2 linked regions of the Homo sapiens genome follow. The protein of the gene in region 1 interacts with the protein of each later gene in a biochemical or structural test. Each region holds a gene or a part of one and is shown on either strand. Other genes may lie near its edges.

Evidence for each region.
Region 2: the proteins of CSNK2A2 (region 1) and PTEN form a complex in vitro, tested with the Homo sapiens proteins (2 studies listed by BioGRID, with this or other methods).

Annotation. Positions count from the first base shown.
Region 1 is NC_000016.10:58,187,179-58,195,106, forward strand, and holds part of CSNK2A2 (casein kinase II subunit alpha'), read right to left. Parts: intron 1-7,928.
Region 2 is NC_000010.11:87,929,161-87,936,624, reverse strand, and holds part of PTEN (phosphatidylinositol 3,4,5-trisphosphate 3-phosphatase and dual-specificity protein phosphatase PTEN), read right to left. Parts: intron 5,580-7,464; coding exon 5,536-5,579; intron 3,613-5,535; coding exon 3,374-3,612; intron 1-3,373. UniProt on the Homo sapiens protein: Dual-specificity protein phosphatase, dephosphorylating tyrosine-, serine- and threonine-phosphorylated proteins.

The DNA.
Region 1 (7,928 bases):
AAAATATAGCTCTGAACAGCTGTATATCATGCACTCACAAATGGAAAAACTGAAACAAAATGGTGAGACACCTGCTCTTCCAATGAGTTACATGTAATTTTGTCTTTCAGGAGTGAAAGACCAGTTCACTGACATCAGGTTACAAACTTGCTTCCCAGCTGCTGGCTCTCATTTCCTGTCACCACTCCCATTTCCTTAATATCTAGAATCTGAAATCAGCACAGAGCCAGTTAATGTTTTCCAACAGATCCCATTCCTGAAGAAAGAAATGTTGAATCAGGAAAGGAGAAATCAATCTGATACAACAGTGACTGAACACTTCTATCTAACTTTTCAGTCTGCTGGAAAGATTAAAGGCTTTAAAAATAATTACTCTCATTATACATATTACTCCTTGTCTTAAATGAGTTAAAGAGTTTGAAGAAGAATAGAAACAGTTCTGAAAAAGTAAGTCTATCATAATCAAGTATGCTTTATAAGGCACTCAGAATGGTGACCAGAACACAGTAAGCACCTAATAAATGATAGTGTTATTTTCATATTTTTAGTAATTTATTATTTAATAAGTCATTGTGATTCCTCACAAAGTCCTTATGTAGCAGAGTTGAGCTATCTGCCCAAGATCACAGAGCCCATGGCAGAGAGGGGCAGGAATCAAAGCTGGAAGCTGGGCAGTCTGACTGCATGCTATACTCTTGCCACAGTGCTTTTGTTTCCCAAGTGTGGCTAACGGGAGAAACGTAACTAAGGAAAAAAGAGTATTTTATCACTGAGACACTGTTATAATAGCAGAGGCAAAGAGAGGCCAATGGATTTGCCAATAAATAATAAAGCAAGACTTTTTTTGCCTGTGTGTGGGGTGGGGAAGGGGAGGGGAGGGGGAAAATATAACATACACACATGCCAGAGAAACCTTCATCTTTTGTTGGTCACTAAGATACAGCTTTGAACACATAACAAAACAGAGAAGGAGAGGACTATGAAACAAGAGCACTTGCATCACCTATAACAGGGGGCTCAACTGACAGGCTGGGCTCTCGCTGCGTCCTTGTGAGCCAGCTGCCATGATGACACCCGCTCTCCGCCCGCTGTGCCAGGGTTCCCAGGAGAGCAGATGTGGCTGCTGTGCATGTTCCCCGACTCCACTTAGAAACCTTACTCCTTAGTCCCTTTTTCATTAACGAGGGAGCTCGAAACTTTGGGGGAAAAAAGCACTGTACAATCTGATTAAAAAATAGCCAGGGAAGGACACACTACAAAATAACCGGCCTGTAAGATCAAACACGTCAATGTCATTCATGAAACAAACTGATCCAGACTTTTAAAATGTGACAACTGAATGTAACACATGACTACAGCTGAATATCATCATGTAATCTGGGATTTTCCTTTGCTATAAAGAACATTATAAGGATAGCTGGCAAATGTGAATGAGAGCTGTAGATTAGGTAACAGCAATGCATCAATGGTTACCTTCTAATTTTTTAATATGGCATTGTAGGGTTATGTAAGAAACTATTTTTAGGAAATGCATACCAAAGTATTTAGGGATGACTACGATTTACTCTCAAGCACGTCAGGAAGAAATACATAACATAAATGTCATTATATAGGTGTGTGTATATGTACACAAATGTGTGTGTATATGAGAGAGAAAGAGAAGGATAAAACAAATGTTAACATTTGAGGAGTCTGGGTGAAACAGATATGGGAATTCCTGCAACTTTTTTTAAGTCCAAAATTATGTTAAGAAGTTAAAAGAAAAATAAAAACTGGCTTTTTTTTTTTTTTTTTTTGAGACGGAGTCTCACTCCGTGGCCCAGGCTGGAGCACAGTGGCGCAATCTCAGCTCACTGCAAGCTCCGCCTCCCAGGTTCAAACAATTCTCCTGCCTCAGCCTCCCAAGTAACTGGGACTACAGGTGTGTGCCACCACGCCCAGCTAATTTTTTTGTATTTTTAGTAGAGACGGGGTCTCACCATGTTGGCCAGGGTGATCTCGTCCTGACCTCAGGTGATCCGCCTGCCTCAGCCTCCCAAAGTGCTGGGATTACAGGCATGAGCAACTGCGCCCGGCCAAAGCTGGCTATCTTATACTTATAAATTCAGCCAATGCTACCAGTTTAGTCAATGCCTTTCGATATAAGAAAATTCTAGATTTGTCATCCAATACTGGAAAGCAGCTATAGATCTATAAGAGTGGTAACAGAGAGGAAAAAAACCCACAGCCAGAGGCCTATATCCACCAAAAACCCTCTTCTAATTCTAACAGTACTCCTAACTCCTTACAGGCACAACCCATTAGTTGCCTTTATGACGCTGCCCCATGTAAAGTCTTGCATTGGTCTCCGGTTATTCAGCAACAGGTCAGGCCTGGACAACCCAGTTAAGATGAACCTCCCTCTCAATACATCTAAAGGTATCTGGCATAGCAACTGAAGCATATTTTGCTGCCCACCAGGTGTCTAACTTAAACTTCCCAAACTAGAGACTGGGAATAGCAGGGCAACTCTGAAGGTGGCACAAAGGAGTCCCAAGTCACAAAGGCAGCTAGAGTCCTCACATGCAAACAAAATACCAAGAAATGATAAAAAAGGAAGGTGACAGACCCACAGTCCAGGACACTTCCCTCCAAACCATCAAAAACTAAGCTACAGGTAGATCCCTTCAGCCTCAGTTTATTCCTCTGAACTGGAGAGATGCTCGAGAAACTAAACCAATGAGCTCTGAGGAGCTGAAAGTGATCCTTTTAATGTGAATCAGAGATAAAAAGTTAGGATTTATGAGGGAGGATTGTTGGTATCCTAAGGAAAATAAACCTAGTTTTACAGAAATAAGGATGCCTTGACTCTCCTGTCCAGAGCCTGTAGCCATTCACCACCAGTTACACAAAATGGAGAAAATACATATATTTCCACAACGATCTCACAGTTTCACTCTGCATGCTAGAAGAAGTCTCCGTCTGGGGTTCATTTATTCCAATTCAGAGACTATCTGTTTAAAAGATTCAAACTCAATCAGTTTAGCTATTGTCCAAACCAATAAAAAAATTTTTTTTTAACTTGAAATCTAGTAGACAAAGTGGTGAAAAAAAGAACAACTGAACTGACAAATTCAAGACAGGCAGGAACATATCTACAGCTCCTAGCTCTCAAATTTGGGGTTACTTTTACTCTACTACCAAACTAACAAGTGCTCCACCAAGATATTAATTTCATCACCTGCAATGAACAATGGTTGCCAAGAATGTAGAAGGACAGAGTAAAAAGAAAGTTCAGCCTGGATGATGGCACGTAATTCACTACCCTGGTGGCATCCCTAAAACTCACTGCACTTGACCTATATAAAAATATTATCTGAGCAATGTTATTTCATCACAGAAAACTTTTCCTCTAATCTTTCAAGTTTCATCACCCCAATTACATGATCTACTCCTTGAGGGTAACTGTTTACTCTCAGGAGTTAAAAAAAATTATTTAAAAAGGCAAGGCATAAATTCAAAATGATAATCAGATACTATCTCACACAAGTCAGGATAGCTGCTATCAAAAAAACCAGAAAAGAAGTGTTGGCAAGGATGTGGAGAAACAGCCACACTTGTACACTGCAGTCAGAATGTAAAATGGTATAGCCACTATGGAAAGTTCCTCAAAACATTAATCATAGAATTACCTTATGATCCAGCAATTCCACTTCTGGGTCTATACCCAAAAGAAGTGAAGCAGGGTCTTCAGGAGATATTTGTACACTCATATTCAAAGCAGCATTATTCACAATAGCTAAAACATGGAAGCAACCCATCCACTGATGGATGAATGGCTAACAAAATGTGGTATATACATACAATGGAAAATTATGTAGCCTTAAAATGGAAGGAAATTCTGATGCATGCAACAGTGATAAACTTGGAGGACATTATGCTGTGCAAAATAATCCAGCCACAAAAGGATAAATACTGTACAATTCCACTTATATGAGATACCTGGAGTAGTCAAATTCATAGAAACAGTAAGACGGTTGTTGCCAGGAAATGGGGGAGGGAGAAATAGGTAGTTACTGTTTAATGGATAGAGTTTCCATTTTACAAGATGAAGAGTTATGGAGATGGACGGCAGTGATGGTTGCACAACATTACCCACTGAACTGTACACTTAAGAATGGTTAAGATGGTAAATTTTATGTTATTTTATTTTATTTTTTTTTAGACGAGTTTCACTTTTGTTGCCCAGGCTGGAGTGCAATGGTGCAATCTCGGCCAACTGCAACCTCTGCCTCCCGGGTTCAAGCAATTCTCCTGCCTTAGCTTCCTGAGTAGCTGGGATTACAGGCACCCGCCACCATGGCCAACTAATTTTTTGTATTTTTAGTAGAGACGGAGTTTCACCAGGTTGGCCAGGCTGGTCTCGAACTCCTGACGTCAGGTGATCTGCCCACCTCGGCCTACCAAAGGGCTGGGATTACAGGCGTGAGGCACCGCGCCTAGCCTATGTTACATGTATTTTAACACAATTTTTTTTTAAAGGCAAGGCATAGAGCAGACCCTTTGAATCTCATTAGGAGAACACTACAACCCTTTCTACTATTGGTTCTGCCTCTAACATCACTCGCATGACCCAAATGTAATATTGTTATTACTACTATACTTTATTGATCTCTCAGGCCAGGCACTGTTTTAAGCACATTTAACCGTCTTAGATGAGCACTATTAACAGTTTTACTTGAGGAAGGACACCAAGGCACAGAGAACTTAAGTAACTGTTTGACGTCACAGAGCGTCTACAGTTGGAGCTAACACCTGAAACCAGGCAGACCACTTCCTAGGCCATACTCTCTCAGGAAAGAAAAGCATTTTGTAGATTACTAAAACATGACAATCAATCTCTCTACCCATCTATCTATAGTTTATCTGACTTTCCTAACAATCCTGTGACTTAAGCAGGAAATGTATGCTTATTTCATAGATGAGAAAACAGTCAAGTGGGTATCAATGAAGAAACTAGTTCTGGAACTCAAGCCTTCTGCCCTCTCATTTACAGCACTTCCTACACTACACCACCCTGATGATGAGATGGTAGATCCTGAAATTAAACTCTAGAAACTATCTGGAGCCCTGCTTTATACATGAAAATGGGCACACTATATCAAGATATTCTTTTCACATGTGGTTTGCTCTCAAATAAACTCATATATTAAAGGGATAAAACTATTAAACTATTAATCCCGAAATCTGCCAAGTGATCATGCTGAGACTTGGAGGAACTCTATGGGTTAAAAAAAAAAAAAACCATAAAAACACTATTTACTGAGGCTTCAAGAGAATAAAGCAGCATTTCATTGAAGCATTAAACATGCTGCTGTGGATACTAATCATAGAGAACGCCTGCCTGGGTCCCTATAGCCCTCGAGGACTCTTGGATTCCACACTTCAACTAGCAACTTACCAAAGTCAAACACTTCCTTTGAGAAAAATAACTCCAAAAATCATTAGAAACGAATTAACTTCATTTGACTCCTGGTGAGTGTTCCTCAATTCTTCCAGTACAGATCAGGACATCACAAAGTCAAACATCCAGCTAATGTCCTAATTATGCTCCTCGCATCTACCAAGACTTCATGACAGGTACACAAGGTCCTACACCGAGTGCTTCCACCCCCTGACTACATGACGCTGAGCATATACATCCTTTCTCTGGGTCTTGGTTGATTTGTAAAAAGGGCCTGGGTTCTAATGGTTTCTAGGTTTCTAAGTGCCCGCATTCTGCGATTCTGTTTGACACAGGTTAACTACACTCTTAATCTGTGACTCCCCAGTACAATGCTGGAAACGGCCTAGTTCACATATAATTTTTAACATTATTTTTAATGTTAGCAATACTTTAGTGATACTGTTTGCACTACTTTTATACCATGAGACATTAGTGAAAATCAGAATGTACCAAAAACTTAGATAAATACCACTAATGTGTTGTTTCAGGAAGATGTCTTCATACACATGCCTAAATTTAGGAGGGTAAAAAACCTACCACAGGAGAAATAAAGAGGAAATAAAGAGGAAAGCACCATTCTGATATAATATAAAGATCACCAGCTCACGATGAAGCTACTAACAAAGATGTATAACCAATGCCCATCCTTTTAACACTACCTACTGACAACACAGAACTTAAAAAATATCTGCAAGTATGCTAAACATGCTTAAAGAGCAAAATTTTAATACCACCACCCTTTGTTTAAAGCTAAATAATTAATATCTAGGGGAAAATGGATAGTCAATCTGTTTATAAAATAAGACCTCTAAGAGGAAGCCTTATATGGGAATTTCCAAGTCATTTTGCACTGGTTCAAAATGCTGTTTTTTAAAAATAGTGTTGCTCTTAACTTTTATTCAAGAAATAGCAGTTTAATTTGAAAGATCCCAAGGACCCCAAGAAGTACTGAAATCTACACACACAGGCAGTATTCATAAAATGCTAAAAGTTGTCAAAGGTGGCCACTTTTACTTCTGTGTACACTTTTCTAAGAGGTACTACAAAGGAAATGAAGAACTGATTTTTCAAAATCAAAAGATGAAACTTTTGGCACTAATGTAGCTTTCTGCCCTGCCATATAAACGCTTACCATTTTCCTCCTCCTTTTTCTCTTTTCTCCTCAAAACAATTTGTCAAAAAAAGATACAACCTCTCTATTGATTGGAAAGTTTTAAGATTTTAGCCACAGAATACCACTTGGGGATAGACAGTAAAATTTTGCTCACCAGTTTCTAAATTCCTAAAACTTTTTAGCAGCTCATTTTTGATCAATACCTGGAAATCCACTAATGCAAATTAAATGATATAAAATTCCTCTGTAGTCACTCATCATCCACCCATTCTCACATATATTGCAAAGAACTGATACGAAACGTTACTGACTACAAAAGTAAGACCACTTGTCCTCAAGAAAGCCACCCTCTATCTTGGTCACTATGTGCATAATACAATCCTGCAGCTAAAATACAGCAGGCTTTTACAAAAAGGAAGGCTGTTCTAGATTCTTCCAAGTTATGAGGAGCTGGTAGTCTGTTAAGGACCTAATTTCCTATGACCAAGCACCACAATAGTAGCTATTAGTCATAACTTCAACTTATTTGAATAAAGAAACACAACTTTGGCTAAAGACCTTGTTACCCTGTTCTTTTTAAAAAGTAATACTTTTAATTCACAAAACAACAAAACCACAATAATGCCATTAGTGATATATTACCCCATCCTTCAGACAGGAACAAAATCTGGATAGAAATGCCACCGGGCTTTAAAAAACATAAAGAAGTGAGTCTAATTTTCACTAGTGGTTTAGGCTGCACTGTGAAAACAAACAACATCAAGAAGAAACAAGAAACATTTCATTAACTAGGGGCCTCCCAAGTCTGATTCCAGGACACTGGTACCTGTTTCTGTGCTCAACGTTCAGATCCTACAATCCAGTGCTAAAATGAACAGTAAGAGATATGAAGAAATAGGAAACAGGAGTTCTGGCTAATGGTCATTCAACATAATGACATTAGGTAAGTTTCTTTGTGCCTAGGTCTCCCATTTGTAAAGATAACCTGCAGCAGCTTACATACTGGGTTTCCTAACATACGCCAAGAATCTTTAAAGTAGGGGGAAAGCTAGAGCCTATAAAGCTCTTTGGATGATGAAGCAGCAATGCGATGCTCTCCTAAATGAACATGCTGGTATTTATACACACACCTGAATGCTGTTCCTTTAAAAAAAAAAAAGCACCACAGAAAATCATACACTTATTCTAAAAATGCTGCCATAGCACAAAAGTTCAGACATTTTTCTGGAATTGCTTTAGAGTCAGCAATTCATTCTTCTGAATATACAGCAGTGGAATATGGATATTCCTAATTTCAATTTACGTTTTGCTTATTTCTTAGATTTGAAG
Region 2 (7,464 bases), on another chromosome or scaffold:
AGTTAAGTTGGAAAAGCCTAGACCATTACAAAAACTATTTGTTCCAATTAAAAATCATTGATTAAATCATCCTACTAGGATATTGATTGTAATGCTAAACAAACAAAAAGTCACACAGTTGAACAGTGAAGGCAAGTATCTTAGAAAGAGTCAAATATACTTGTAGCATGAAGAAGAATAAGACTGTTGCAATACCTCTATCAAATACTTTTCTCCATTCCAAAAAAAACCCTGACATTAAAAAAACAATAATAAAGTAGGTCACAAAAAGATTGGAAGTACCACCTTTCTTCAGATATGATTTCTCAGTATAGCCGGCTACAAGTTTTCATCAAATGCAAGCATGGTGACACAATCAAGGAAACATTCCCATTTTGGAATCTTTTTGGAAGCTTCAGAAAACATTAACACTTTCAAAATGGTAAAGTTTCTTTACCAAAAAACTTCTCCTGAAGAAACCTCAGTATTCTGTAGGCAGACAGTACACCTTACTGCCAGACAACACATCTGATATTGGGGCACTGGTAAAGACAGAAGCTCTCCATGTCATGGTCACCCACTGCTCTCTTCATCAGTATGCGCTAGGGTGCAAGACTGTCATCAATCCTGAAAGAAATCTTATCTCTTGTTGTGAAAGTATTCTACTGTTTCAAGTGCCAACCCTTGAATAATTCCCTGTGTAAGATGATTTGTCATGAAAAATCCACTATTGTGAAAGCTGCCAGATTCATGAAAGCCAAGACTTTCAATCAAGAGCTTCTCGAGAGGTTTTGTCAAGAAATGGGAGCACTATGAAGTTCTTTGCTATATATAAGTTCCCTGCTTTCAGAAGACAAATTCTACAGCCTGATACTGCTGTTTACAGGATAACATACACTCTTTTTAAACAGTTTAACTCTTCAACCTTGAAAGTAAAATGTGGAGTCATAATCTTTTCTTTCCTAACACAGCATTAATGATACAGATCTTGCCAAAAATGATCTCAGTAACTTGAAGGCAAAGAAAATGATGAAACATGAATTTATCTGAAGAGCCTTGGAGAATTCTTATTTCTTGACACGTCTACTTTCATCAGGCAATAGAATCTACAGATTCCATTTACTCTTCTTTCTTTTGTAAAATAGCATTTTCAGCACTTTTTACCAAAGTCAACACTGATTGGATATCAAAGATCATATAAAAGTTGCAAAGTCAAAGTCAAAGAGCATAGTTTCAACTTGTTATTTTAAAAGTTAAATAGCAGTCTTTTCATTAAAATTTAGTATTGAACAGAACTAAAGCTTAATTTTGGTTAATTTGTACCACTTAGATTTATTCATTGCTCTCATGTAGTAGCCACTGGTTTTTGCATAAAAAAGTGACATAGTTTTCATGAAGGTTCTTTTACATTCTGTCTAAAAGAATATATTTCAATGTAATAAAAACTGCAAAATTTTATGTACACTATGCACATTTTTTGAGGGGAGAACATTTATACCTTCCATCAGACTTTAAAAGGAATGTAACACAATTTAAGACCCCCTGGCTTAAATCTAGTGTTCTGCGCCTCCACATTACAAAATTTTTCTATTTTATTACAAAAAATTTTTTACCTTTTTTTCCACTACCAAAATATATGCTGCTCATCAACTCTGTTTTAAATTTCTACCATCGCTTTTGCTACTGCATTTTTTTTTTTTTTTGAGATGGAGTCTCCCTCTATCACCAGGCTGGAGTGCAGTGGCACAGTCTCGGCTCACTGCAACCTCCACCTCCCGGGTTCAAGCGATTCTCCTGCCTCAGCATCCTGAGTAGCTGGGATTACAGGCACGCGCCACCACACCCAGCTAATTTTTGTATTTTTAGTAGAGATGAGGTTTCACCATGTTGGTTGGCCAGGATGGTCTCGATCTCTTGACCTTGTGATCCGCCCGCCTCGGCCTCCCAAAGTACTGGGATTACAGGCGTGAGCCGCTGTGCCCAGCCTGCATTTTTAATCAGTAAAAGCAATTGTTTCCCTGCAGATGATAATGGGATAAATCAAAGTAAAAATCTTTAGATCCTCAGCTCTATAATTCATGCCAGTGCTATCATTCCAAGGTGCAAACAATATGCAGAAATGTAAGGCAATCTACCATAATCTTCAACATTCACCAAAATTATGCACTAATGTAAGATTCAATTTTGTAAACTATCAACAATAAACAGTATTTCGGCATCCTTATATATAATGCAAAAAAAGTCACAAAGGATAGGAAACAAGATATAAGAGGGGGTAAAGGAACAAGGAATCTATGCAATTACACAGCTTTAAATGATTAATACGATCATTCTATTTCTGTTTTACAGCTGAATTAAGAAGAAATTAGATTAACATGAAGGAGAACTCTCTAAATGAGTTTTTCTATCTATCTGGAGGGGCTTAGGCTTTGTCCTTCTTAGAGATGGAAAAATGTACAAAATCTCTTTGCATTAAATTTTAACATGTTTTGCCATACTTACCACCCAAAGAAATATATCAACAGCAAAATTAAATCACTGTAAAAGTTCTCCCAAGAGTTTTCTTTTTTCTTTCAGATGTACTATAAGAATTAAATTTGTCACTGATTTTTCAATATAGTCCTTAGTTTTCTGATCAAAGAATCGAGAATCTTCTATTAATCTAACTACATTTATGAATATTCTTATAAAAGAATAATTTTTATGGATTATAAAAGTTCACACTTTACTAGGTAATGGTATTTTATCCAAAGGCATTCTATGCTCAAACAAGCTTCAGAAATATAAAGCTTATTTTTGATTAATATGCTTTTTAAAAATGTTATTTTAGAAGAATTTTGTGAGACCAAATCTGCAATACAGTTAATGGGTAACATGTGCTAGTATGATATGAAAATGGTAGCGTGAACAGAAAAATGAAATCAATCAGTCATTTCTCATATAGAAATTGAGGCAGCAACTGATTTAAAAATTTAGAAGAAATAAGGATTAGCAACTATCTTTAAAACCTGTTTTCCAGGGACTGAGGGTGGGGAGGGAGGAACACAAGATGAACAAGATCTGAAGCTCTACTGGACAGCATAGTGACTATAGTTAATAATAACATTGTATAATTGAAAATTGTAGCTTGTAGATCTTAAATGCTTTCACCCTGGGGGGAGAATAATAATTATGTGAGGTGATGAATATGTTAAGTAGTTTGACTGTAGTAATCATTTCACAATGTATATACACATACATCAAAACATCATATTATACATTGTATTTATATATAATTTTTACTTGTCAATTACACCTCAATAAAACTGAAGGAAAAAAAGAAACCCAAAATCTGTTTTCCAATAAATTCTCAGATCCAGGAAGAGGAAAGGAAAAACATCAAAAAATAACTTACCTTTTTGTCTCTGGTCCTTACTTCCCCATAGAAATCTAGGGCCTCTTGTGCCTTTAAAAATTTGCCCCGATGTAATAAATATGCACATATCATTACACCAGTTCGTCCCTTTCCAGCTTTACAGTGAATTGCTGCAACATGATTGTCATCTTCACTTAGCCATTGGTCAAGATCTTCACAAAAGGGTTTGATAAGTTCTAGCTGTGGTGGGTTATGGTCTTCAAAAGGATATTGTGCAACTGTGGTAAAAAGATAACCTCAGAATAAGAAAAAAAAACTCTTGAATTTTTAATTAACAAGTAGGTAACTTTAGAAATGTTGCATACAAACTTAACAGGTATTTAAAAGAAACACTGGATTCCAGAGAAAAATAATGTATTGCTTAACTTTCTAATTGTTAAATAGAAAATAGTCTCTTGATAAGTCTTAAATATAATCATTAAGGAAGCCAGGTATTATTTTCCCCCATTTTATTCAGGAGGATATATTCTGGGAATTTACGCTATACGGACTGGTAGCATAGGTCACATATTAGAGGTAGAGCTAAACCCAAAATGAACTGTCACATGGACATTTCGTCAGGACTCTCAATGCAAAAGGAATAATACTATTTATAGTATTTATTTCATCATCACAAAACATATTCCAAAGACAGAATAGATTACTAATAGGATAAACTATGCAAAGAACTACATATTACATTTCATAAAATAAAAATGCTAAGTGTGTTATTTAAAGGTGGTCTTGCAAATGTTAGTGTTGTATACACATGTAATCATTAGGGAAGCCAAGTATTATTTTCCTCCATTTTCTGCAGGAGAATACATTCTGGGAATCTATGCTCAATGGACTGCAGCATAGGTCACATACCAGAGATATGTGAAGGCATACACCAAAGAAATTACTCACAAAATGTATATAATTGTTATCAAAGTTTCAGGTCTTCTCACATGAATTGTAAGAGTCCAAGACTTCTCTGTTCACTATAGTCAGAGTTGAGGTTTTTAAAAAAACTTGTTTAGAAACAGGACTATAGATATATCACTATTAATTGCTCTTAATAGTTTCTACCTTAGTTCCACTCTATTAAGATCCTTAAAAACCCTGGCTGATATTCAATGTACTAACCTGTGTCATCTAAATATGTGAGAAGTATGTCTTATATCTCCAATCAGGTGACTCATAATATGGTACAGGATATAATCAATTATCCTTTGGTGTGACAGGAGAGATCTTCTGGTAGACAATGACTATCATTATAAGGAGTCAGCAGGACAGCTTTCACTTAGTCATCTGCCTAACTTCATTTTCCCAGTGGTACACAAAAACCTCCAGGAAAATCTGTTAAATATCTGTTTAAAGCAAGATAAACCTCAACTAAAGCCTGCTTTGCTTAGTAAGCAACAGCCTAAATCCACCAAAAACAAAAACAAAAAAAACCCGTTCTTAGTAAACCTATACTAAATCTCAATCATTAGTGATTTAGAATTTTCAAACCATTTGTCTGAAAGTCCATTCTAGATTTTCAGGAGGGATCAATGGCAAATACATCAATAGTAGCTCATGGCACCCACTTTCTTTTTGACTATCACAGCAGCATCTGCCAAGCTTCTCAACTCTTCAGTTTTCTCATGGTTTAAAGTGTTAAGCCATGAGAACTGAGTTGTATTTCACAAATAAAAGTGAAAGTTTTTGTGGGCTCTGAGAATTAACTTATGTCTGAAGTAGAAACTCATTTAAAGCAGTTCCCTCCTCTCATCCATCAGACTCCTCTTATCAACATTTGTTATATCCTTTCCTACCTTTTATGTCATTCCTCAACACAGAAGAGTTAAGTAGTTCTGCTTTCTCCCTGTGATTGCTTACTATTAGACCAACTGCCTCAAATAGTAGGTAAACCCTCTCCTTATACTATTTTTAGTCTAGGAATTTTCCTAATTCTTAGTCTATGCTGCACTTTAGTCTTCCTGACAATATTAATAGCTTTATGCAATACTTTTTCCTAAAACACAACAGTAAAATTAAAATTTTTGAAATTTTTAAAGATAATTCTTAAATATGTATCTCACTCGATAATCTGGATGACTCATTATTGTTATGACAGTAAGATACAGTCTATCGGGTTTAAGTTATACAACATAGTACAGTACATTCATACCTACCTCTGCAATTAAATTTGGCGGTGTCATAATGTCTTTCAGCACAACTAAAAGAAAAGTTTAAAAGTGATATAAAGTTATCTTTTGCACTTAGGAAGAAAAAAAAGTACTAATACTAACAAACATTGCCTGAATCTTTATAATGTGACACATATTATGCTGTGTTTAACATTAATTATTTCATGTAATAACAAGAATTCTATTAAGTAGATACTGTTATCACCCCCATATTATAATAATAAAACCAAAGCTTAAAAGATTAAGTGTATGCAATTAGAGCTAATACATTTGCTTAAAAACTTGTGATGCCACTAATACAGAGTACTGTAAATTCAGGTGCTTCCATGCTTTCAAATTTCCTCTATGAAAAATCTGCATGCTATTGGAATATATTTTTAATTTTACAAGTACCTATAAACAACTGACTAGTTTCAATAGTATCTGTATCTCATAGTTAAGCATACATAATTCTCAAACTATTCTTCAAAAAGATATATGTTAAAAATAGTAAAAGCATAAGGACAGTAAAGAAAAACTGAATGTTGTTAATCTACTTGGCCAAATGCTTACTAATTTTTTTTTAAACCAGACCTTACTCCCTGTTGAAAAGCCAACGATCACCTTTTTCAACAGTCTCTCAGATTGCAAGTTTTAATTACAGTATGAGAGTAATGAAAGAATAAGTAAAATCAATACAGAATAGTAAAATGCTGACTTGTCATTACTAGAGTATGCTAATATTTGTCTTAATAGCAGTGATATGTTAGTATGTACTGGCTTTCTAATGATTAACAGGCCATGTTTACAAACAATAAAAGGCTCAGAAAGAGATCTTACATATCAGTGTGGTTAGCAGTACCCTGGTAACTCCAACTACTATGCAAAACAAATTTTTTAAAAATTACTTAAAATAAACTCTTAGCATTTTAAAACAAATAAAGGTCCATAGCTCCTTAACCTGCAATTTCAATATCCCAAAAGTTCAAAACATCTAAAATTTTCTCTTAAGTTTTATGGCAAACTCAACTACAGCAAATCCTGATCTGAAGTAATAAGATTGTACATAATATTTAATACACTTAGAGCGAAGAGTAAAACATTTCATTTCAGGTACTGACCCACACCCCACTGGGGTGTTTATGTAAAAGTATATTTATCTGTGCTACCTTTTGAAAACTAAAATTTCTGAAAATGGAAACATACTTGGCCCCAAGAGTTTCAAATAAGTGATTGTGAACCTGTATTGTACATTTAGAAACCCTGAAAAACATCTATATAGTTTCTTCTCTACCTTAAAGGTAATTCAAAACCAAATTCACATGAAGGTTTAACTAATTATAAATAAACTACAATCCATTGGTTTCTAACTGGTCAGACCTAAAATAAAACAACTTTCATACTACCACTCAAAACAAAACAAGCTTTTCCTTTTTAGTACAATTTAGTATATTGAGTTTTTCTAGAAAGAAAATGCATTTAGTAATGACATATGCACATATATGCATCCTTGCTAGTAATTTCATACCCACTGACATGAAAAACAGGAAAAAGAGGACTGACAAGACAGTCACATTTTACACTTTCTTTGGTACTTTTAAGATAAAAGGGGAGAAATTGTCAATAGTGAAGAATTCATAATGGAATATTTTATAAGGAATCAGAGATGTAGGACTAGGAAACACAATCTAAGAAGCTGGTCTCAGGACAACACAACAGAAAATAAACATTAGTTTTGTGCAGCTTCAGTTCTCTAAACTTCCCCTACTTTCTCAGGATCCCAGAACATGTGGTTTGACGAACACTCCTTAAGACTGCTTTAATAAAAATGCCTCTCAAATATTACTGTTAAGAGGACTATATGGACGGAAAGTGGAAGTAATGACTACTAAGTGTCAACCAGATGAACACACCTTACAAAGAGTTTCCACTTTT